Regions from separate parts of the Homo sapiens genome. Here regions 2 and 3 are each linked to region 1. Evidence: fine-mapped expression QTL. A gene starts in region 1. Each other region holds a variant in brackets. All regions are shown on one strand. Distances are between the middles of the regions.

Region 1 (8,004 bases):
GGAGTGAAACTCTACCGCACCCCCCACCCTCCGCCCCCGATAAGGATCAGCCCAGGGATTTCCTGGGTCAAGAAACTACAGAAACCATCGGCCTTGTTAGAAAATGGTTTTGGCATGAAACGAAAATAGTTCAGGCCTCTCCACCACCATAATTAGGTACAAATTTCCAAATGACTAGACCATGTGATTTCACTTAATCCCCGCATGCCCCCCCTTTTTCAGAGTCCTTTGCAGGGAGAGAAGAATCTTCATGTCACGTAACTTCTTCCAATTCTGCTGCCTTTAGTTACTCTTTTTAACAAGTTCATCGCAGAGCCCCTTTTTAAACCAGGTTAAGGCTCCGACTGGAGTTCCCAGGCCGAGTGCTCATTTTGAAAAGAGCGCCACGCACGCCTGGAAGAGAGACCTCGCCTTCTAGGAAGGGGCTCTCTAGCCCTGAGCGGGCGGGCGGCCACCCTACACCCTCGCCCCTCCCACCCACCCGTGGTCCACCGGGGTCCCCCGGGGTGAGAGGCCCCTTTAACCCTTGCCAACCCGCAGCAAAACTCTGTGCTTGCAAACAAGCTGTGTTCTCTAGTGGCCCGGCCCCAGGGCCCGAGGGTGAGCCGCAAAAATAGCCCCCAGGCAGCAGATGCGTCCAAGGCTTTTCATTGGGTCGTGAAAACAGAAAGACACCGGCTTCTGCAGCCACAGAGGCCCAGCCCTGCGGCAAGAACGCGGCACCAGCTCGCAGGGATTACAGAGGGGGCCGGGCCCTGACCCGGGGGCCGCCTCCGCCCGCCCGCCCGTCGGACCGGGAGCCGCGCCTGCCCTTGGGGCCTCGCTCCGCGGGCTGCCCGCCCGGCGCACGGGCCAGGGCTCTGCGCCCAGGGTCTGGGCCGGATCCTGCCGCTCCCCCGGCCCGAGGGCAGGCGCGGGGCCCGCACACCTGGCGGAGGCCGCGGCTGAACTTTGTGTGACACACGCGGCGTTTTCCTTAAAGGCGAAAACAATCCCGGGGCGAGCGAGCAGCCCTCGGCCGCCGCTGGGAGAGAAAGTGGAGACTGGAAGAGAAACTCCTGACTCATCCGCCCGGGCGCTTATGGCTGGGGATTGGATTCTGACCTTTCGGTGCGCTCCTGCGCGGCGCCCCGCCCGGCCCCAGCTCGGGGCGCACAGGCCGCCCGCCCGCGCCCTCCCCGCGCGCGGAGGGAAGGGGCGCGATTTACCTACGGAGTCTATCTCCAGGAGTCGCTGGAGGTCCCGGATGCTGTGGATCTGACTGCGGGCCAGCCTCTCGATCACCTCGCGGGGGATCTCGGCTTCCTGCAAGCAGAGGCCACACGGTCAGCGCCCGCGGCCCCGACCCCGCCGGCACGCGCCCCCGGCCGCCAGGAGCGCCGCCGCCCCGGGCCCGAGGAGACCCCGCGAGCGCCGGCCGCAGTCCCCGCCCCAGCCCCCGCGGAGCCCTCGCCCCGGCCCTGGAACCAGAAGCCGGGGGTGGGGCTGGAAGAGACCCCAAATTCTCCACCCGCATCCATGTTCCGCCCTTTGCAAAATCAAAGCCCCCCCCCCTTTATATTTTCAGACAAAAGCCCCCGCACTCCGGCCCCTCCACCCGGGGTGTCAGTTACAGAAGGTCTAGGGGGCAGCGAGGGGGCCGAAAGTTTCTGATTTAATAGTGAGATCAACATCTAGAAAGATCAAGTTAAAATGCGTCACGGGTCGGCGAGAGTCACGGCAGCCCTAACACTTTAATCCAGGCAGGGCTTAAATTTCACGCCCCGGAATCCCGGGCCGAACCCGTGGAGAGGTCTCTCCGTCTCACAAACACACGCACGCGCGCGCAGACACACACACGCGCACACACATCTCACTCACACACTCGCCCCACCCCGGGCTCCGGCCCAGCCGCGGCCCTAGCGCCGACTAAGACGCCCAAATCCAGCCGGCGGCCGGGAGAAGAAGCCTCCAGGGAAAGCGAGGGTTAAACTTCCACCTCGCGCAGCTCTCCGTGCCCTGCGGAGACCACCCTCACCTCTGGCCTCCCCCACTCCCCTCCCCGATTTTTAAGGAGAGTCGGGGGTCGCTGGGGAGCCTGAAGCACTAAGTTCCCACGACGGGGGCTGTGGAAAGTCATTCATCACAGCAAAGCTCCCGGGGATGGGGATGGGGATGGGGATGGGGGGGCGGGGACGCCGCGGTGGGAGGGTGCGGACGCCTGGCCCAGCCCCAGCTCGCCTCGCTCAGCCACCTGTAAGCAGGCCCGGGCGGGCGGGACTGCGCCGGCCCTGAGCCCCGCCGGGCTTGGGGACTGGGAACCGAGGGCTGCAGCTTGGCGCTGCCCACCCTGCCCGGCCAGGGGCTTCCGCAGCAGCCGCCCCTACCTATTTATCCGCCGCCCTTCTCTCCTCCCCAGGCTCCGCCGGCTCACACACACCCCCTTCCCCGCTCCCCGCACCCCGCTGCTGCAGCGCCCGCTGCGCCCCAGCTCCCCTTCCCCGGAGAGGACACTGCGCCCCCCGAAGTTTCTGCCCACTCGTCCACCTCGCTGCTCCCCGGTCCCCCCGAGGCAGAGCGACCGACGCAACACGCTGGAAACTCCCCACACACACTTAGGCATGGCAGAAAATAGAACCCAGTTGGGAAAATCTAAACATCGACCACCCTGGCAGGAACCAAAACGCTCTCTGCAGAGCCCGTGGCGCCCCAGCCGGCGGGGGGTGTGCGCCGGAGGAGCCGGCGCAGGGACGGGGCGCGGGGGCGGCACCAACCTCGGCCAGAACATGGGCGAGGTATCCGCAGCCGAGGAGCAGCAGGCAAGCCAAGGTCCTCATCGCGTCCCGAGGCGCTGGCTGCTCGGAGGAGAGGCGAGGCCGCGGGGCGGGCGCTCCAGCCGGTCTCCTGTGGCGGCGAAATTCAGTACCATCCCTTAGGGAGCGCGGCCCGGAGGAGGGTGGCGCGGGGAGCACGGAGCTGGCGGAGCGCGCCCGGCGCGAGCAGTGAGTGCGGAGAGGCAGGCAGCGCCAGCCAGGAGGAGGAGAAACAGGGAGTGCGCGCCCGCAGCGCGGGGAGCCTCCTGGGCCGCCGGGTAGGGGGTGGGGACGGAAGGGGCGGAGGGCGGGGGCTGGGCTTCTTCCTCGGTGCGTTCCCGGTGCTGGCCGCCGCCGCGCTCGCTCCCCGCGCTGGCTTCAGGAGCGACCCGGCCGGTAATTCTGCATATTTGCGGACATCAGCCCCAAGAAGAACTCCGGAGGGAGTCTGGGGCCGCCGCCGCCGCCGCCGCCACACCGATCACCTGCCTGGACGCCTGGCCCGGCCCCGGCTGCGAGCTGCGAGCCGCCCTGCGCGCCCACCGCCGGCCCCGCGCTCGCCTCCGGCCTCCTCTTGCAGCCGCCGCCCGGCCGGGCACAGCGCGGCCCAGCACCCCCTCCGCGGCGCGCCCTCGGCTCCGGCGCCGCGCTCCGCCCTCCGCTCGCCGGGGCCGGGCAGCGCCCGCGGCCGAGCCGCCTGGCAGCCACCACCCGCCGCCCGGGGCCTCGCTGCGCCGCCCGCGCGGGCCTGAGGGCGGGCGCAAGGCCGAGTCGGCGCCTCCGCCGCAGCCGCCGCCGGGAGAGGAGGAGGAGGAGTAGGCGCAGGCCCGGCTCGCCGGAGTTGGGCGGGCTCCGCAGGGCGCGCGTGTGGAGCCGGCCGGCGGCGGGGAGAGGGTTATAGCGCCGCCGCCGCGCCCCTCCCCCGCCCCCGCCCCCGCCCCCCCCCCCCGCCTCCCCCGGATTCCGGGCCTGGGACCCGCACCTCGGAAGCGCTCGGGGTTCGTGCGGACCCGGCAGGGCCCGGGCGCCGCCGCCGCGGCAGGGAGCACACACGCGCTCGCGCAAGCAGCTAAATCCATCAAAGCCCCGCGCCCGGCTCCGCGCCGGGGCTCCGCGCCCCTCCCTCGAGCTTGCCCACCCTCCAGTGCCAGCTGCAATCCTGCGGCACCGGGTGGGGAGGGAGGAGGCCGCCGCAGAAGCGCCGCCGTCGCCGGCTCGCCTCTCTCGGGCCCCAGCGGCGGCAGCGGGCAGCGCCCAGAGCTGCTGCGCCAAAAAGGGCCAGAGAGCCGGTCCCCGCCCCCGCCCCGGCGCTCCGGCCGCTCTCCACGGTTCGGATCCAGGGCCCCAGCCTTCCTCTCTCCATAAAAGGAGGGGGAGTCAGTCTTTGGGGAAGGAGGGGGGCGGGTTTGGGGCACTCACCTGGCGGCTGCCACGCGCCCCCGCCCAGGATCCGAGGCCTGGGGCATCTGAATGAGGACCCTCCACCCACATTTCCACTTGGGAGCGAGCTCCAGTCGGGGAAAGGGCCTGCAGCCCGCCTCGTCCCCACCCTGGGACCCCGCGCCCCCCAGTCCCCCACTCCCGCGCCGAAGGCAGGGCCGCGCCCTGAGCCGGGAAGTCGAGGGGATGGAAGGGAAAGGAGCCACCGGTGAGGGTCCCCCGGGTTCTGAGCCTCCCGCGTCGGGATCCGTGGGGCGCACAGAGCGCCACCTCCGGCCGAGGCGCAGCTCAGAGCGCGATGCGGGGGAGGAACGCGCGCGGAGGCCGAGGTCTGAGCGTGGCTAGACGGCTCCCACGCCGAGAAAGGGCGGGTGCGCCTGGGCTGGATGGATTTCGCCTCCCTAGACCAGGAGGGATTGGACCCTGACTACAGGTCCAGGTGCTCGTCAGTGCCCTGCCAGGGGGTCTACGCGTCCTGGTACCGGGTCCAGCGGGGTGGCGTGCTGTGCAGACCCCGAGGCTAGACGGCCTAGGCCCCTGGAGCCCAGGAGACGCTTCCTTGGGTGAGCAGCGGAGAATCCCGCCCGGCCCAGCCGTCACCCCCAACCCTGTCGATTAAACCCCTGCCCCCGTCGCGGTCGCCCTCCCTCCAGACAAAGGCCGTTAAGGCGCAGCCCCGCGGGCGGTCTTTCATCCCCAGCTAGGCCAGCTCTAGCATTTCAAAGGCCGAATCCGGAGAGCGCTTCGGGGGCTCTCCCCTTCCCCCAAATATTTGGGGAGCGACGCCTCTCCCTCCGCTCCCAGTGGGTCGCGTCTACACGCGCCCTTCCACACACCTGCAGGCCCCCTCCCCACGTCTCTCCCTTCCGTTGGCCGCAGCCCCACACCACGACCCCCGCGGTCAAGCATGCCCTCTGGGTGGTCAGGACCAAGCGGGACCGGGACAGAACCAGGGGAGCCTTGGAAACGTGGAGGAGCCCCTTAAAGCCAGGCCTTGTCCCTCCAGGGGGAACTTGCGGCTTGGGAGGGGACACCCACTGCATGGCTTCTGGAAAGAGCCGGACTCGCAGGGCCAGGACGCAGGCCGGACCCCGGCCTCATTCTTCGGCCAGTTATCCCGGAGTGGCGCGCATCCTGTCTTCCTGGGCCTCGGACTGCTCGCGCGCAGAGGGGGCCCGAGGACACCTCTGTGGGGTTAGAGGACTCGGTAAGACGGTGTGGAAGGCAAGGAGGAAGGTCGCGTTGTATTGGGGATGGGGTACCCGTCCCTCCCAGCTTGAGGGATCCTGGGGGTCCTCGCCGCCTCTGAGGGCCTAGATGGCTGCTTCCCTCGGCTCCCCTGCCCGGCCTGGAGCTACGGGTGCGCCCAGCTAGAGTTTAGGGCCACCTGGGGACGTGCAAGGGGCGCTGGAGCGAGGCGGGGGCTGGGGCGGGGCGTGGGTGCTTCACCCGCGGGGGACGCAGAGCTTAGGCGAAAGCGGTGCAGGCATCTCTCTAATCGCCGGCCGCTATTAAAAATAAAACCGCGACCCGTCGCCATGGCGACCACAACAACAGCGGCCGCGCGAGGGAGGCGAAAACTTGTGCAGCCGCGCGACAGCCGCCTTCTGGGGAGACTCGGGGCACGACGCACCCGGCGTGGGACTGGGACCCCCCTGCCCGGCCCCGCCACATTCTCCGCCGGATCCCCGGAAGACACAAGGAGACGTGGACCCCCACAGGCTTTTTTGGGGGGATTGGGCGTTGAAACCGCAGGGCTGACTTAACCAAGAGGTCACCGACTTGGATAAAAAACCCACGCCCGCGCGGACCCCCCTCCCCGGCCTTCGTTTCCATTCAAACTCCCAGCGTCCTCATTGCAGCCCCTGGGGAGGGGGACGGAGGGACGAGGTGGGTTTCAGGTGCTCGGCCCAGGAGGGGACGGTGCGACCCGGGCCCCGCCGGCGGGTTTTGCGCGCGGAGGCTGCGGCACCTGCCCCGCCCGCCCTGCCGCGATCCTTGCAGACGGGGGCGGTCACATGCTTCTTTCTGGCCAGGAATCGAGTTTCACTTCCAGCCGCTATTAGTCGGTTCACACAGTTCACTGCAAACATTTGATAATGAGGCTAAATATACTCCCGCGTCGGAGGAGGCGTGGGCGTCCCCGCCCAGGCCCGGGAGACAGAGGCGCTGACCCCGGGACAGAGCCTGGCTTTGTGCGGGAGGCAGACGCGCCCCGCGCGCCGCCCCCGAAACATTCGCACCCCATGCTGAGGCGCGCGTCTGGGAGTCCGTGGGCGCCCCGAGGTGAGCCCGGGGCCCCTGGCGGAAGCAGCGGGGAGCTCCCGGCGGGTGCGGGGAGGTGCTGGTGGGAAGCAAGGTGCACCTGGCGGCCTGGGATGTCCGGTCGCCCCCGGAGCCGGTGCATCCGGCCTCTCCCGGCGCGCCCCGACGTGCCCGCGGGCTCATAATTACCGTGAGTCAGGTGCCCCAAATAGGCCGAGCGAGGGGGGCCGTCGCGCAGCAGGGGCGGGTGGCCGGACGTCTGCCCGGGACTGGTTGCCTCCCGCCCCTCCCCAAGACCCTGGCACCCAGGGAGGGCGGGAAAGGCCTTGGCCATTCCTCTGGGTAGGGGACTGGAGAGGGGAAGAAACTTTCGCCGAGTCCAGCGCTGCCCCCTCATACCCATCCCCACCCAGGCTGCGTGTCCGGGGCCCCTCCGGGGCTTGGCACCAGCAGGCACGCAGCGATCGCCGTCGTTGTTATTTAGTAGTAGTAGTAACGGCTGACATTTACAGCGACGTCGATGGCGCCAGGTGCCAAGCTCTTTCCTTGTATAATTTCATGGACACTCACGCATCAACTCTAAGCGAAGACTTGGAGCGGGGCTCAGCACCCCAGGGGTACCTCTGCAACCTCGGTAAATATAGACTATCCTCAATTCGCAGGGGCATTTGTACGTGGGGTGTACAGGCAGGAACAGGAAAGACGCTGTGGCCACCCAGGAGTAGGGGCGGCAGCCAACACCCCCTGGATCCCCAGTTCCAAGGTGCAGGGAGGGGGGCAGAGGCCAGTTCCCTCCGCTCTCTGCCCCTTGACCTTGGCCTTGGTGAGCTCTGTCCCTAGACTGCCCTGGGTGTCTGTTCCCTCATCTGAAAAGCGTGAGGCCCACAGCCGTCACTGCACACAGCTGCCGTCACTGCACACAGCTGCCTCCACTGTCGGGAAGCCTCCCTCCTGCCCACCTGCCCAGGAAAAGCTGCGCTAGCGTGCCCTGGGCAAGCGCCCTGCTGGCCACCTGCCTGCACCTGGGTTGGGGGTGGGGGGACCAGCTGAGCACCCAAATCCTGGCCTCTGCCCCCAGCGCCAGAGCAGATTTCAGAACAATTTGTAATGACGAAACCCCACGTTTCCCTTTATCTCTGGGCAAGGCTTTCTTCGTCCTAGGCAATTAATCCAAAAGCAACACCAGCCGAGTGGGCTGGACTCCTTGAAGATCAAAACTGCCCAGCGCAGGCATTAATTAAGTCATTATCTCAGGCCCCCAGCGACTAGGGATCAGGCCTTTCCAGTTCACACTCTCCAGAAAGGGAGATAACTGCCCCGCCAGCAGGGTGGGAAGGCTCTCTCTCCATGTTGTTTTAACTCCCTATTAAATCATTTTATTTTAAATACACAAACAGAAATGAAGTTGAAAATAGCACAGGAGCCCACTATCACTGTGTGAACATTTTGTGAATGAAGACATGTATGAAAGGATGTTTGGAGGCTTCAAGAAACGAAAGCCGAGAGT
Region 2 (8,004 bases), 100 kb after region 1:
AGATGGGGTTTCTCTGTGTTGCCCAGGCTGGTCTCAAACTCCTGGGCTCAAACAATCCTCCCACCTCAGCCTCCCAAAGTGCTGGGATTACAGGCATAAGCCACCGCACCCAGCTCATTCACATTTCCGAATGTGTTTACTGCCTCACAATATTCCAGCTGCAATTTGAAGTGGAGCTGCTTTGAAGGTAGAGATTAATGTGAGGGAGAAATGACATCATCACGTTGAGTCATTCCACCCAAGAATACAGACCGCCTCTCCCTATTCAGATCGTGTTTTATGTCCTTATAGAGGTTTAAAACTTCCTCCCTAGAGTCTTCTGTAATCTGTTGTCAAGCACATTCCACTTCTCAGTGGCTGTTGCCCTCATGAATGGCATCCTTTCAAATTCTATTCTCCAGTTACTCCTCATCTGTGTCTCTTTTCTCATTCCCTGCACCCACCCAGCCCCTTGGGCTCTTTTTTTTCTCTCTTTCTTTCTGTTGAGACAGATTTAATATCTTCATTGTGATGGGAAGGAATCCGTATTTTTAAATTTTCTTTAAATTGACAAAGAAAAATTGTGTATATTTATTTATGGATTCCTTGGGCTTCTTAATGATGATTTTTGTAAGTTGAGCTTGCACCAACCCTGCTGAACACTCATAAGAATGTAAGAGTTGTTCTGTGTATTCTATGCTGGTTTCCATAGACATGATCAAATTCATCTTCTCTCTACCCTTCCAATTAGGACTCCTCTTATTTTTCTTTCTTTATAGCATTGCCGGGACCTCCCAAGCACAGTTAAACCATGAAAGCCATCAGAGCCTCATTGTGGTCCCTCCCTTAAAGAGCATGTAGCCAAAGATTCTCCATTAGCATGTTTGCTCTGTGTTGGGTATGTATGACCTTTACCAAGTTAAGAAGTGACCCTATTCTTAGTTTGCTAAGAATTTATGCAATAGTTGTTGAGCTTTGTCAAAACCTTTTCCAACACCTATGTGACATGTCACATGCTCTTTCTCTACAATCTACTAATATGGTGATTTACATGGATAGAGTATTCTGAGGTTGAACCATCCTTGAATTCTGGATCATCTCCACCTGATCACAGTACAGTACATACAATGATCTAGCAGCTTCCTCTTGTTTTCTATTTTCTGTAGCAATTTGAGAAGTAAGAATAGACAGTTTGCTGATGTTTGAAAGAACTCAACCAGTGAAACCATCAGAAAGAACCCTTTGGGAGGAAAGGTCTTTGGTTACCATTTCAACTTACTTAATGCTTCTAGATCTCTTCAGGTTTTCTATTTATTCATGTGCCAATGTTGATGGTATTTTCAAAATCATCTCCCAATATTTAAAAATTTACAAAATTCATAAAATCCAAATTGTTGGCTTTCCTTTGAAAAAAGAAAATAAAAAGAAAAGTCTGACAACACAGGGACCTTGTACTCCCAAAGCAAGAATTCAGCTCACCCCCACTTTGGAAGGAGCATGACCATCTCCAATCTGCCACAATTCCCAAGGACTCCACGTTTTCCACTTAATTCCTGAACCCCCAGGATCCCGAGTTTGCAACCCTTCCCTAAGGGGCTCACTATTGAGCAGTGGTGACAGATGCTTGTGTGGGGTGATGTCACAGCAGGTGGGGTCATCCCCATGACAGATGCTTCCTGGCCATCACCTCATCATGTGTGGTACAAGTCCCAACCTTGCCTGGAGGGACCCAGGGGACTGAGTTTCTGAAGAGTTAAGCCATCTGTAAAATGGGCACAGTAACACTCTCAGCCTCTAAAGCAGCAGGGAGGACTCAGTGATCATGAGGCTTGTGAAGCACTCAGCAGAATAAGGGGCTCCCACGGTCAGCAGCTGCTGCCATAGTGTCTGCTGGTTCCAAACCCCATGCAGCCGCTCCCCCAGTGCTGCTAGAAGGGTCACACATGTCCCAGAATCCCCCAGGAGTGATGCAAATGGAGCGGCCCATGCCCCGATCTCAGCCAGTCTCTTCACCACTCTGGCTTTTTTATTCCTTTTTGTTGGCTTACATTGCTAATATATTGTGGAACTGCAGCCAGAGGTGGCCTGACAGGTAAACACCTCCCCGCCCTCACCCATGCAAAGAAACCTGCTGAAGCAAACAGGTTCAGCCAGTTCTCAGAGCCGAGGCCACCTAAGGGGGACAACAGAAAGGATGGGCACCCACAGCCCCTCAAAGCTGCACCTCAGACCCGAGCACCAGGTGCCTGCCAAGGCTGGGCATGCATTCAGAAGAGCAGCGAGGTGAGGGGTGGCAGCAAGGACCCCCGCGCCACACAGGGCCTCCCGCTCACTCCTCCCGCTCCAACAATCTGCATTTCTGTATGTTAGAAATGTCTGCCTGAGGCTAAAAGAAATAAAGAATTTTTGTGACTTTTAAACAAAAGCATCATGACATTGACCTGGGAGAACATGAATGTGCTAGGATCGTATCCAGTAATAAAGAAGGCAAACTGAGTTATTAGCACTTCCAACATGTCTGATCTTTAGTTTTTTTCAACTCTCTATTTTGAAAATCTTTGAACCTTCCTAGGGATGGAAGGGGGATGTCAGAGTCAGGACACGGGTTGTTATTCCCCCTCCCATGATGTCAAAGAGCAGAACACACAGAGGCACATATGCACCAACAGTAGGTCTGCAGAGAATGTGCATATGTGTATTGACAAGGAGCAGACGGGAATGATGAGTGAAGAAAACAGAACATTTACCAAAAAGGACCCCGCTGAAGGCAGAACACTTGTTCCAGCGCATACTAATATGTTTTTCTGACTTCTTATGTTTTTCAACATGACGCTATCCAGGGGGAAAGAGTGGCCTGCTCAGTCTGTCCTCCTTTAGAAGTGGTTCTGAAAGACCTAGACATGCTGCCCTCGCTGGGGAAGAACCTCTCTCCATTGCGGATTTAAACCTTAGGTCAATGTTATTTAAGGAAAGGAAGTGGCCTAAACCCTTGGGCAGACCCTGGGTGCTGGCATCACGGTCCTATCTCTTCTGTCCCAGCCCAAGACCCAGGGTTCCCATCTGCTGGGATCCCAGCGCCCCAGACACAGCATCCTGGCTTGTGTTTAGCCTCTTCCACTGTTTAGGTGAAGGCTTGTTCCGTGACTCTGTTGACTACAAGTTTCCAAAAAATTCTCTCTAAATAGCAATAACTCAGTCCTGGCATCATGGAAAGCAGAGCTCCTGCTCCCGGCTGGGGTGCCAACAGCACGGTGTTCTCAAATCCCCTGGGACCCTCGGCCACACTCTTGACTGTGGGTCTGGTTCCTAACCACAAACATGTGGTAACAACAATTCTCTCTCTGGCCAAACTTTAGTCAGGTTCCAGAACCTTCTTCTAGGCCCATCTGTACTTCCTTGTAAAATAATCCTGCCAAATCAGTTCAGCCAGAACCGATCACCCACCATAATCAATATGTGATCATCTTTGATATCTGATCATCCTCAGTGTCTGATCAGGCTCCTCACACCCACCACCCCATGGGGGATGTCTGGTCACCCTGGCCTCTCTTCAGCAACAATCCTGTTAGGTCAGTGAAGCCAGAACCCCCCAGCCCCTGGTGTTTCCTCTCGGTCATTTTCCATCCACTGCCACTTAGGTGGAAATTCTCACGTTCTCATCTCATATTCGGAGGCAAGCCCAAGCTCCTTCCTCCACCGCAAGACCCCATTGCAGTGATCCCTGTACCTAGTGCAATGGTCCAGAATGAAGTCTTCCATGCCATGCTTTAACACACGTCACTGAATAACGTTTTCTTGGCATTGGAGAGAGAAGCGCGTGAATGGCCAGGGTTCAGGGTATGGAATGAACCTATGGAGTCCCAGAAGGGAGGTACAAGCCAAGTGTCCGCTCTACCCTGTGGATCTAGGGAAGGAGGTGGAGGATGGCAAATTCCTTCTGTACATTCTTGGGCTTCCAACCAGAATTGCTAGTCCATGCCACTGGCCATGGCGTCCAGCCCTGGATGTTCACAGTATCCCCAGATACCCACGCCAGCCCTGAGCTTCTGAATCAGAATCCACTTTGGATGAAGACCAGCACCCGCAGGTTTAGGTTGGTGACAGCAAACTTTTATCTTAAAAATATGCATGCTGACCAAGCATGGTGGCTCACACCTGTAATCTCAGCACTTTGGGAGGCTGAGGCAGGCGGATCACCTGAGGTCAGGAGTTCGAGACCAGCCTGGCCAACATGGGGAAACCCCATCTCTACTAAAAATACAAACATTAGCCAGGCTTGGTGACATGTGCCTGTAATCCCAGCTATTCAGGAGACTGAGGCAGGAGAATCGCTTGAATCCAGAAGGTGG[G/A]GGTTGCATTGAGTGAGATCGTGCCACTGCACTCCAGCCTGGGCAACAGAGCAAGACTCCATCTCAAAAAGAAAAAAAAAAAGTGCATGCTCTTTGAATGGGTTTTTCTTTCCCCTAGCATTTCCTCTATAGAAGCAATTTTTAAAATATATAAGATGTGGCTAGCAGGCTGTTTATCACAGAGCTGCTTGTAGCCATGAAGGTTTGAAATATGCAATAGTTGGTGATTGGTTAATTAAGTTACAGAATGGAACACAAGGAGGTATTAAAAAACAGTGATGTGGAGACACATCCACGGAGACTGGATGATGGTCACTATAGGCCTATTAAATTTAAAAATGGGTCATAAGGCAAAATCTGATCAAACTGCAAGGAGAAACAGACAAATGCACCATTATAGTTTAAGACTTTAACGCCCCTCAGCTAGTTATTGACAGATCCAGCAGGCAGAAAATCAGTAATCTAGTTTGAAAAATTATACACAGGAAATAAAAAAAGAGAATCAGTAAGAACATAGATTAACTGAATGGCACCATCAGTTAACAGGAAATAATTGACATTTACAGACTTCATCAAACAAGAGCAGACTACACATTCTTCTCAAGCTCACATGAAACATTTACCAAGAGAGAAAACATTCTGGGCCATAAAATATCCCTGAACAAATGTAAAAGAACAGAAATCATATAGTGCATGCTCTCACACCGGAAGTGAATTAAACTAGAAGTCAGTAACAGAAAGATAGATAGGAAATCCCACAATATTTGGAGATTAAATAACATACTTCTAAATAATGCATGGGTCAAAAAAGAAGGCTCAAGAGAAGTTGAAAAATATTTTGAACGAAATGAAAATGAAAATAGAGCTTATCATAATATGCAGGAGGTAGCAAAAGCAACACTTAGAGGGAAATCTATAGCACTGAATGCATATATTAGGAAAAGATCCAAAATCAACAACCTAAGCTTCCATCTTGGGAAACTACAACAAGAAGAGGAAATTAAATCCAAAGCAACAAAAAGAAAAGTAAGAATAAAAATTAAGACAGAAATAAATGGAATTGAAAATAGGAAAATACTAAAGAAAATCGATGCAGCCAAAGCATCTCTAACTTCAGAAATGAAAGAAGGGACATCACTACAGGTCCCATGGACAAGAGACATCACTACAGGTCCCATGGACAAGGGGCATAACTACAGGTCCTATGGACAAGGGGCACCGCTACAGGTCCTATGGACAAGGGGCATCACTACAGGTCCCATGGACAAGGGGCATCACTACAGGTCCTATGGACAAGGGACACCACTACAGGTCCTATGGACATTAAAAATAAAATAATATTATGAAAAACTCTATGAGACCAGGCACGGTGGCTCATGCCTGTAATCCCAGCATTTTGGGAGGCCGAGGCAGGAGATCACCTGAGGTCAGGAGTTCGAGCCCAACCTGGCCAAGATGGTGAAACCCCATCTCTAGTAAAAAATACACAAAATTAGCTGGGCATGGTGGCAGGCACCTGTAATCCCAGCTACTGGGGAGGCTGAGGCAGAAGAATCACTTGAACCCAGGAGGCAGAGGTTGCAGTGAGCCGAGATCGCGCCATTGCACTCCAGCCTGGGTGACAAGAGCAAAACTCCATCTCAAAAAAAAAAAAAAAAAAAGAAAGAAAGAAAAACTCTATGACTACACATTTGATAACTCAGATAAAATGGGCCAGTTCCTTGAAATACACAATCTACTAAAATTCACACAAGAAGCAACAGATAATCTGAACAAGCTTGTATCTATTAAAGAAGTTGAATCAGTAATTATTAACCTTTCAAAACAAAAAGCGTCAAGCCCAGGCTGGGCACAGCAGCTCACACCTGTAATCCCAGCACTTTTAGAGGCTGAGGCAGGAAGATCACTTGAGGCCAGGCATTTGAGAGCAACCTGGGCAACATAGCAATACCTCATCTCTACTAAAAATTTTAAAAAAATTAATCAGGCCTGGTGGTGCACACCTGTAGTCCCAACTACTTGGAAGGATGAGGCCAGAGAATCACTTGAGTCCAGGAGCTGGCAATTGCAGTGAGCTATGATTGTTCCACTGCACTCCAGCCTGGATGACAGAGACAGACCTTGTCTCTCAGAAACAAAAAACAAAAATAAAAACAAAAAAGGACTAAGCACAGATGTGTTCACTAGTTAATTCTACCAAATATTTAGGAAGAAATAATACCAATTCTCTACATTAGCTTCAGAAAATAGAAGCAGATGAAACACTTCCTAAATAATTCTATGAGGACAGCTTTAACACGAAAACAAATTAATCTGATCTTGGAGGAAAAAAAAAAGGAAAGATAAAGTGAACTTTTTTTTTTTTAGAGACAGGGTCTCTGTCACCTAAGCTGGATTCCAGTGGCATGATCATAGCTCACTGCAGCCTTGACCTCCTGGACACGAGCGGTCCTCCCGCCTCAGCCTCTCAAGTAGCTGGGACTACAGGTACAGCACCATGCTCAGCTAATTTTTATTTATTTATTTATTAAGATGGAGTCTCACTCTATCACCCAGGCTGTGCAGTGGCGTGATCTCGGCTCACTGCAAGCTCCGCCTCCCGGGTTCAAGCGATTCTCTTGCCTCAGCCTCCCGAATAGCTGGGACTACAGGCACCCGCCACCACGCCCAACTACTTTTTGTATTTTTAGTAGAGACAGGGTTTCACCATGTTGGCCAGGATGGTCTCAATCTCTTGACCTCGTGATCCGCCCACCTCGGCCTCCCAAAGTGCAGGGATTACAGGCATTTTTATTTATTTATTTGTAGAGATGGGGTCTCGTCGCATTGCCCAGGCTGGTCTCAAACTCCTGGGCTCAAGCAACCATCCCGCCTCAGCCTCTCAAAGTGCTGGGATTCCAGGCATGAGCCACAGGGCCTGGCCCCAAAAGATAACATTTTAATCAGCACTGGCGGAGGGTAGCGGTGGGGGCCGAGGGATCCAGGGTTCCCTAAGAGCTCACAGGGTCCTTCTGAGGACTTCACTCTCACCTGGAACTTTTACAACACCCATTTTACAGACGGGACACTGAGGCCGAGACTAACTCATGACTCCCCCACGCCTGAGGGTTTGCAAAGGGCAGAGCCAGGTGCGGACCCAGGCGGTCGGACAGCCACGGCCAACGCCACCCGGCACTCTACACGGCTGACCCCCCCAATCCATCAGGACTGCAAGGCCAAATATCACACCGTCCGGGGCACCCCAGTACTGAGCTTGACAGCAGAGGGCACTTCCAATTGTCCCTTCCTAAGGAGGGCACCAACACCCCCCAGGGTGGGCAGGGGCTCGGGCGCTCTCCATCCAGAGCCCCCCGCCCAGCTCACGCCCGCCCTCCCCGGGCACTGGGGGAGGAGGTGAGCACCCGCCACTCAGGCTCAGGCAGCCTGGAAGATCCAGGCCACGACTGCCAGCGCTCAACTCCACTCGGCCCTCACTGGTATTTTCCGAGTGCCCGCTATGTACAGGCAGGTCTGTGCTGGGCGCCAGGTTGCCGGGAAATGGGGCACACACAGCCCCTGTCTCATAAAGGCACCAGCAAAACAGGGGTGAACATCGAATGGGTGGGGCCCTTCTGACTGTCACTCACGGAACAAACACAGGCCGAGGCCTCATCACAGGGGGACAGCGGTGGGGGGA
Region 3 (8,004 bases), 86 kb after region 1:
CAGCATGCTGCCGGCTGGGGCCTGGCGCTGGGGCAGGAGGGTGGCCACCCGCGCTGAAGATGAGGACAAGCCCGGGGCGTGGGTGGTGGGCGTTTCCTCTGTGGGGTGGACGAGGCTCTTGCGGTGCGTGTGTTGGGGACATGAGACGGGGCGGGGCAGCTGCCAGGCGGCCAATGGCTTCCACACCAGGGGCCAAGAGCAGAACCCCAGGAGGGTTATCTCAGTCTTCCCGGCAGCAGTGAGCTCTGTTCGTTTTTCTGAGTAATATGGAAATGGCACGGCTCAGCCACACAAGGGCCTGGGCAAAGGTCACGGCCAGCAAAGAACACAGCCTGGGTCCTCTGAGTCCCGAGTCCACGCGATCCTGACCCGTCCACCACCCTCCTCGAGACACGACAAGTTAGGCGGGAACATAACCTGGGAGCCCCATGTCGGTTTCAGGCTCCACAAGGGATCTCTGGGTAAAGGGTTTGTCTCTTCCACATCTGTTCATTTAGGAGAAGCAAAGAACATGGAAAGCAGAATTCCTGGGGGTGGCCTCAACCCCAAGCCCTGCCGATGCAAACCGGCACCTTGAAGATGCCTTTGGAATTTAACTGGAAGATTTGAATGACATGGGCAGACACAGAAGAGGGAGAAGCATTCCACAGGGGAGGAAAGGCCTCAGTGGGGACCTATGGAGCTCCCAGGCCCACCGCAGGGAGGCAGGTCCTCGGTCATCTGCGGAGGTCAGTATCTATCAAAGCCCAGCCGCAGATAGATGAGCTGGGCCTGGCGGGGTCTTGTAGGATGTGTAGGAGTTTGTGAGGCAGAGCAGGAATGAAAGCAGAGGGGACAGGAGGGGCAGAACCAGAGTCAGGACATTCATTGGCTAATTTCCTGTTCTTGGTCCCTCTCCCCCATTAAGCCACAACCTCCCCCACACCAGAGCAGGCACCAGGTCCTCCTCGTCACAAGTGCCAGGCATAAAGCAGGCACTCAATAAACATCCAGGAAGGAGACGGCAGGGGAGGAGGCGACATGATGACTCCAGGACCCAGAGTGGAGGTGATGGGGGAGGAGGTGACACCAGGACCCAGAGTGGAGAGGGCAGGGGAGGAGGTGACACGGTGACACCAGGACCCAGAGTGGAGGGGATGGGGGAGGAGGTGACACCAGGATCCAGAGTGGAGAGGGTGGGGGAGGAGGTGACACCAGGACCCAGAGTGGAGGGGATGGGGGAGGAGGTGACACCAGGACCCAGAGTGGAGAGGGCGGGGGAGGAGGTGACATGGTGACACCAGGACCCAGAATGGACAGGGCGGGGGAGGAGGTGACACGGTGACACCAGGACCCAGAGTGTGAACTAGAAGAGGGGCTATAAGTAGTAGCATGAGATTTGGGGCTGGGATAAAGCGGTGGGTCCAGTCAGGAAGCTGCCCATCCCATACCTCCCGCAGAGGTGGCTCTGCCTTCAGCACTGCTGACCACTGGGCAGGCCTGGGCTGCCAGGGTCTCTCTGGGATCAGCCCTGCCCCATCTGCTGGGGGCTGAGCCCCATTCCCTGCAGCCCCCCATCAGGCCCTGGTGTCTGGATACCAGGCACAACGGGGCCACCTCCTGGGACGGGCCCAGGCCCCAAGACGATGCCCGGCTGGGATGCTGGCCGCATCCTCCTCTGTCTTCTCTATTTCCTGGGCTAGGCTTTTTTTAAACTCGAAGCAAAGCCAGCAGGAGATGACTCTGCGGCCTGGCAGCTGAGCCCAGGGTTGACCCGCCAGTGCCGCCCTCCAGCCTTCCCCCTCCACACTTCCTCTGAGGCCGGGCAGTACCCGGGACCTTTGGCACCTGCCTCAGTTTCCATCTCTAGGGGAGACAGGAGCACCCCCACTCCCTGACACAAAGGTCTGCCCCAGAGGCCCTGTCTAGGGGCCCAGCCCGTGGGTTCCGGCTCAGGACAGAGCACACCAGGGAGAAGAGAAACTGGCTCTTTCTCCGCCTGCGCGGGCCAGGCCCGAGGCACGTGCCCCCCACGGGGAGGCGGGACCCCTGAGTCATTTCCTGTGCTATCAGCTCCGGAAGCAGAGTGGGCCTGCTCAGGTTCCCAGAAACACAGCGCGATGGGGGACAGACTCCGCGGCTGCCACGGAAACAAATGAGTAAATGCCCTCCCCAGAATAGCGTGGCCGGGACAGAGGCACAGCCACCGGAGGCCAGACCTCGAAATAGCTCGTGCTGGGCAGCCGGGGGTGGCGTTGCCTGCACGGAAGAGTGCGGAGGCCACCTCCTGGGGCAGGTGGACAAGGAGAAGGGCAGGCGGACAAGGAGAAGGGCAGGCAGGCATCCCAGACCCAGAGAAGACTCAGCCAGCCTGGGAAGCAGTGACCGTCTCGGGTAGCAGAATCCCCAAAGCGTCCTGCACTGTGGGGGCTTCCAGTCTGTGTGCAGAAAGGCCGTAAAGAGACGGTCTCATGAGATGTCATCACCACGAGCCGCAGAGGGTCCTACGAGGGAGGCGTGGGACATGTCTGCTGATGCCCACTGGGAAGTGACATTTAGCAGAGAGCAGAAGGAGAAGCAGGAGCTAACGGGGTTCCCGGCAGAGCAGGGGACACACACCAAGGCCCTGGGGCCGCCAGTGCAGGCGGATTCCAGGAACCGAGGGAGGATGATGTCACTGAGGTCCTTCCCGCTGACTCCGCAGGGGCTCGGGCCTGATTCAAAGGGAAACAAACTCCTAGCGGGCGTTTTCCCAGAGGCTGCACCATCAGCTCCGCACCAGCAAGGTCAGGCTGCCGTGCGGGGGGCGGCCTGCAGAACAGGAGCCCAGCGGGGGATGAGGGGGCCTCAAAGCCTTCACACCAGAGCACCCAGGCTCTAAACCGGACGGCAGAAGAGATGGGAGCCAGAGGCTCTGGGCAAGACTGGGCTGCGGGGCCAGGGGTGATGTCATGTGCCGTGTGTATGTGTTTATTTACTTAGTTTTATACATATATGTATCTATTTTATACATACACATACACATGGCCTGGCCATCGGGCACGAGACGGGGTCTCCAGCGGAGGGGAAGCTTCTCCTTCCAAAACAGTGGGAGCATCTCATAAAAGATGCTCTTGAGACAAGCGTGGGAAGATGACACAGTGAGACCCGACTCACGGCTGGGACGTTCCAAGCTGGGAGCCAAACGCAGGCGCAAAAGGCAGCCGTTGTTTGATCGTGAAGTCGTCGGTCCTAGGGGGTCTCTAAGCACGTCGCTCTCCCACCCACTTTGAGATGTTAACATCCCATGTGGTGGGTGAGCCTGGTGTATTCATCGGCCTCGGATCTGGAGACGGCGCTGGGTCAAACAGAACCGCCCTGGCCAGCCCCAGCAGTCGCAGCCCGGGGGCAAGCGGAAGACAGCGGCCCTGGAAAACCTGAGGCCGCTGCCGGCACCTGCCAGCATCACCCTTGTTTCCCTCTGCACTTTCTCATATTCCCATATTCTCTTCCAAGAGATAGCAGTTGCATTTCTGGATTAAAACACTAGGAATACGGCACTCAGCGCAGTGTTTGTTGGGGGCCTGGTGCTGCCTGGAGGGCAAGTCTTCACACCGGACATGCAAAGACGCGCTATTTTCCAAAGACAAGTTAGCGACACTCACATCCACTTCCCCTTGATCAACGACATAGAAGTTGTCTCCTTCATTCCCTGTAACAAAAGAAGAAAGTCAACAGATACAAAGTACATCCAGACATACAAGTTACAGTTTCTCTTGCAAACGACTTTCGCAACACTGTTGCAGAGACCCTCGAAGCAACATCCTGGGTGCTACCAATTCTTTTTAATGACAAGATTATACAAACATTGAGATAACTTGTTAAAGAGCCTGTTCTTAAGTTTCATTAGTGAACTTTCTCTAAACAATGAGAGGTGTTTTTCTTTTTGTTTGTTTTTTGTTTTTTTTGAGACGGAGTCAGGCTCTCGGCTCACTGCAACCTCCACCTCCCAGGTTCAAGCGATTCTCCTGCCTCAGCCTCTGGAGTACCTGGGATTACAGGCACCTGCCACCACGCCCAGCTAATTTTTTTGTAGTTTTAGTAGAGATGGAGTTTCACCATGTTGGCCAGGCTGGTTTCAAACTCCTGACCTCAGGTGATCCACCCGCCTCGGCCTCCCAAAGTGCTGGGATTACAGGCGTGAGCCACCGCGCCCGGCCTCACAATGAGAATTTTATGCGTGTGTGTGTGTGTGTGTGTGTGTGTGTATAATTTTATATTACTTTAGTTTTATACATATGTATATATTTTATATTTACTTAGTTTTATACATATATGTATCTATTTTATACACACACATATGTATATATGTGTACATATATGTATACATGTACACACATATGTGTGCACATATACGTGCATATATATGTAGACATATATGCATATTATATGTGTGTATGTATGTACAAGTCTATATATATCCTTTTGAAATTTGAGACAGAGTCTTACTGTATCACCTAGGCTAGAGTGCAATGGCGTGATCTCAGCCCACTGCAACCTCCGCCTCCCAGGTTCAAGCGATTCTCCTGCCTCAGCCTCTGGAGCAGCTGGGATTACAGGCACCCGCCACCACACCCAGCTAATTTTTATTTTTAGTAGAGACAGG[G/A]TTTCACCATGCTGGTCACCTGGACCACCAGGCTGGTCTCGAACCCCTGACCTCAGGTGATCTGCCCACCTCAGCCTCCCAAAGTGCTGGGATTACAGGCGTGGGCCATCGTGCCTGCCCTTATGCTATTTTTTTTTTAAGTGCATAGTCCATTTTTCCCCTCTGGACTTTGGCTCCGAGGAGCAGGCAGAACGTACCTTGCTGTATAACAGTCTCCCCAGCGATGTGAGTGACAGGGAACATGGCATCGAATATGTCACTGAAAAGCAAAACACGCCAAATTAGGGCTGCAGGCAGCACAGGGACATTTAAACCCTTCCTCCCCTCATTTCACAGTCTTGTGTAAATCGCTTCACAGTCATTGGGGAAAATGAGAAAATCCATGAGAGTTCAAAGAAGAAAATTGAAATCCTTCATGACCCGAAGGCCAGAGATGGCACCGCCAGCCCTGGGCACACAACCTCCCAGCCCCATTTCTGTTCTGTGCACAGACGCAGTTTGCTGTTTTGGTTTTTACAAAAATGGGGTCATGCCATACATGCATTTTGAACTCCATTTAGAAAAACAAAAGTAACAATAGATTGTGAACATTCTCCCATCGGTAAATACAATTCTACTAGAATACAACCAGCAATCTTGATGACATGTTTTCTGCATTGTTTTCCTTTCAGGGAGAACACTTTCAGTCGAAGGAGCCTGGGACCCTTGACACAGAAGTGACATGTGCATTCGGAACCTCTCTGTGGAAAACACAGACCCTTCATGACACGCAAACTCGAAGCCGGTGAGGCCGAGTCTCAGGGCTGCGCCAACCAGGAAGCCTGGCTGTCCAATGTTCCAAATCTGGATGTGAAATGGACCATGCAGACAGGACCCAAGGGGCATGGGGGAGCTGGCAGAGGCACCCGGGACAAGTGGGGAAGCACCTGTCGGCCAGGAAGGTAGAGAGGCACCTACCCCAGAACACGGTGCCAGCGTCACACTCTTATTAACAGATGCAATAACCACCTTCGGAGACCAGACCCCTCAAAGAGCACTCAGCCCACAATGTGACGCAGAGAAACCAGAGACCCAGGCAGGGAGTGCACCCACGGGGACACTCCGAGGGTGGCCTCCTGCCTGCCCTGATTACTTAAAAAGGAGATTCTTGGAAACCTTTGCGGGCCCACAGGTGCACCCTGACTCCCAGGGATGGGGGCTGAGCCACCCAGGAAACAAATATGAAATCAAAGATCCAGACAGCCCTGACCCTCCTGATTCCAGGGTCCATAAATAAGTCATTCTTAAAATAGTGGTTGTTTTCTCTCTATTTAAGAAGTGCTTCTTTTTTGAGTCCTTGTTCCCAACTTCCCTGGCAACTCAGTTTCCTGTTTCCTCCGGGAGGAAGGCAGAACTGCAGGAGAGGTCAGTGTGTGGCAGGGCTGTAGGGAGGGCTGGGGGGCCTCCACTGTCCTCCCACCTGGGGAGGGATCAGTGTGTGGCAGGGTTGTAGGGAGGGCTGGGGGGCCTCCACCGTCCTCCCACCTGGGGAGGGGTCAGTGTGTGGCAGGGCTGTAGGGAAGGCTGGGGGGCCTCCACTGTCCTCCCACCTGGGGAGGGGTCAGTGTGTGGCAGGGCTGTAGGGAGGGCCGGGGGGCCTCCACTGTCCTCCCACCTGGGGAGGGGTCAGTGTGTGGCAGGGCTGTAGGGAAGGCCGGGGGGCCTCCACTGTCCTCCCACCTGGGGAGGGGTCAGTGTGTGGCAGGGCTGTAGGGAGGGCCGGGGGGCCTCCACTGTCCTCCCACCTGGGGAGGGGTCAGTGTGTGGCAGGGCTGTAGGGAGGGCCGGGGGGCCTCCACTGTCCTCCCACCTGGGGAGGGGTCAGTGGGTGGCAGGGCTGTAGGGAGAGCTGGGGGCCCTCCACTCTCCGCCCATGGGTGGTGGGGCTTGGCCATGCTGCCCCAGCCCCAGTCCCGGGCACCTGGCCCCGGTGGGGACATTTCCTGGCCACGGCCTCCCTGGTGCACGCATCTGCAGGAGCCGCCCTGGCACCGTTCTCTAAACTGCATTTCTTCAAAACCACAAAGTATGGGTTCTCAGAATGAACAGACCTTTAAGAAATCATTTTACAATTCCTCCCTCTTTTTTAAAAAAATATTTCAACTTATAATGGTAAAATATTCCATTAAATGCCTTAAGTAATCAAATGGACACTGTGTACCCCCCACCACCCAGCTCAGGACCCTGCTGCCTCCACCACTCTCTCCTGGAAAACTGTCCAGCATCACAGCTGCGGCTCCAGCCTCCTCCGGGCCCAGGTGTGGAGGGCAAGTGCTGCCTCCACCACCCTTGCTATGCGTCTCCACTTCACACATGGGCATCCGTGACCACACGTGTGCACCCGTGAAAAGCGTGCATTTCCAGTGGTGTCTGCATCATTTGCATATCACTGACAGAAAGATACCCTTTCACAATTCTATTCTCCCTCCTGACCCATATTTTCTGAAATGCACCTGGGTGAAAACATAAATCTGGAAGCTTCTTTGCTCCTTTTACAGCTGCCTAGTATTCTTTTTTTTCTTTTAAGAGATGGGGTCTCATTTTGTTGCCCAGGCTGGAGTATAGGGGTGCGATCACAGCTCACCGCAGCCTCCAACTCCTGGGTTTAAGGTGTCCTCTCACCTGAGCCTCCCAAGTAGCTGGGACTACAGGCACGTGCCACCACGCCTGCTTATTTTTATTTTTTATTTTTTAATTGATGGGTCTCGCTATGTTGCCCAGGCTGGTCTCCAACTCCTGACCTCAAGCAATCCTCCTACCTTGGCCTCCCAAAGTGCTGGGATTACAGGCATGAGCCGCTGCACCCGCCCTGCCTGGCATTCTCTATATGAAAACCCTCGCTCCTTCACCTGTTCCTGCCCAGATGGACGTTTCCAGTGCTTCTGGTTCCTGCCATCACACGCTGGGCCACGATGGACATGACAGAACTCCCCATGAACAGGGGGCAGGTCAATGTGGCTGCACCCCAGTGACTCGAGGCTCACGTTCCACTCACGTGCTTCTACCACAGCCTAAGCAAAGGCAGGGGTGGGCTGAAACCCTTCCTGGGAGGTTTCAGTCTCCAGAGGGGGCTGTTCAGTCCTTGGTATCAATGAAAGCCGACTTTCCACACACCCAGGTGCCTGGGCGTGGCCCCGCTCAGAGCAGCCCCTCCTGGAGTGCCTCTTAAATGAGCCTCACTGGGTTGCTCCGTTGGCCACACAGGTGTCCCTCATCTCCCCAGGGACGGAGGAACACAGTCCCCAACTCTCTGTGATCAGCAGAGCCCAGAGAGCCCAGCCTCGTGTACCAAAAAGGTCTGGGAGCCCCATTTTTCTTCAGAGGAAATGTTAATGCCCGAA

Evidence for each region. PIP is the estimated chance that this variant, and not a neighbour inherited with it, causes the effect.
Region 2: its variant is fine-mapped to the expression of PDGFA-DT in whole blood (TOPMed, PIP above 0.99).
Region 3: its variant is fine-mapped to the expression of PDGFA-DT in whole blood (TOPMed, PIP above 0.99).

What each region holds. Positions count from the first base shown.
Region 1 is chr7:516,186-524,189 of GRCh38, forward strand. PDGFA-DT (PDGFA divergent transcript) reads left to right here and starts at 4,206. Exons shown (of 3, transcript NR_033963.1): 1 at 4,206-7,131; 2 at 7,895-8,004. It overlaps PDGFA (platelet derived growth factor subunit A), which reads right to left and starts at 3,661. Exons shown (of 6, transcript NM_033023.5): 1 at 2,754-3,661; 2 at 1,209-1,305. The coding sequence starts at 2,816. RefSeq lists enhancers at 608-1,530, 2,453-3,374, 5,219-6,140 and silencers at 688-787, 2,631-2,720, 3,181-3,320, 3,601-3,690, 3,791-4,130 and 3 more.
Region 2 is chr7:620,039-628,042 of GRCh38, forward strand. The region is part of intron 4 of PRKAR1B (protein kinase cAMP-dependent type I regulatory subunit beta); the gene reads right to left. Among named protein-coding and RNA genes, the nearest start is that of PRKAR1B-AS1, 21 kb to the left of the region's middle. The variant G/A (reference allele first, on the strand shown) is at 4,329.
Region 3 is chr7:602,570-610,573 of GRCh38, forward strand. PRKAR1B (protein kinase cAMP-dependent type I regulatory subunit beta) reads right to left here. Exons shown (of 11, transcript NM_001164760.2): 5 at 4,822-4,883; 6 at 3,624-3,670. It overlaps PRKAR1B-AS1 (PRKAR1B antisense RNA 1), which reads left to right and starts at 276. Exons shown (of 2, transcript NR_110054.1): 1 at 276-728; 2 at 5,296-5,933. RefSeq lists enhancers at 969-1,018, 1,079-1,764, 1,699-1,808, 2,079-2,438. The variant G/A (reference allele first, on the strand shown) is at 4,625.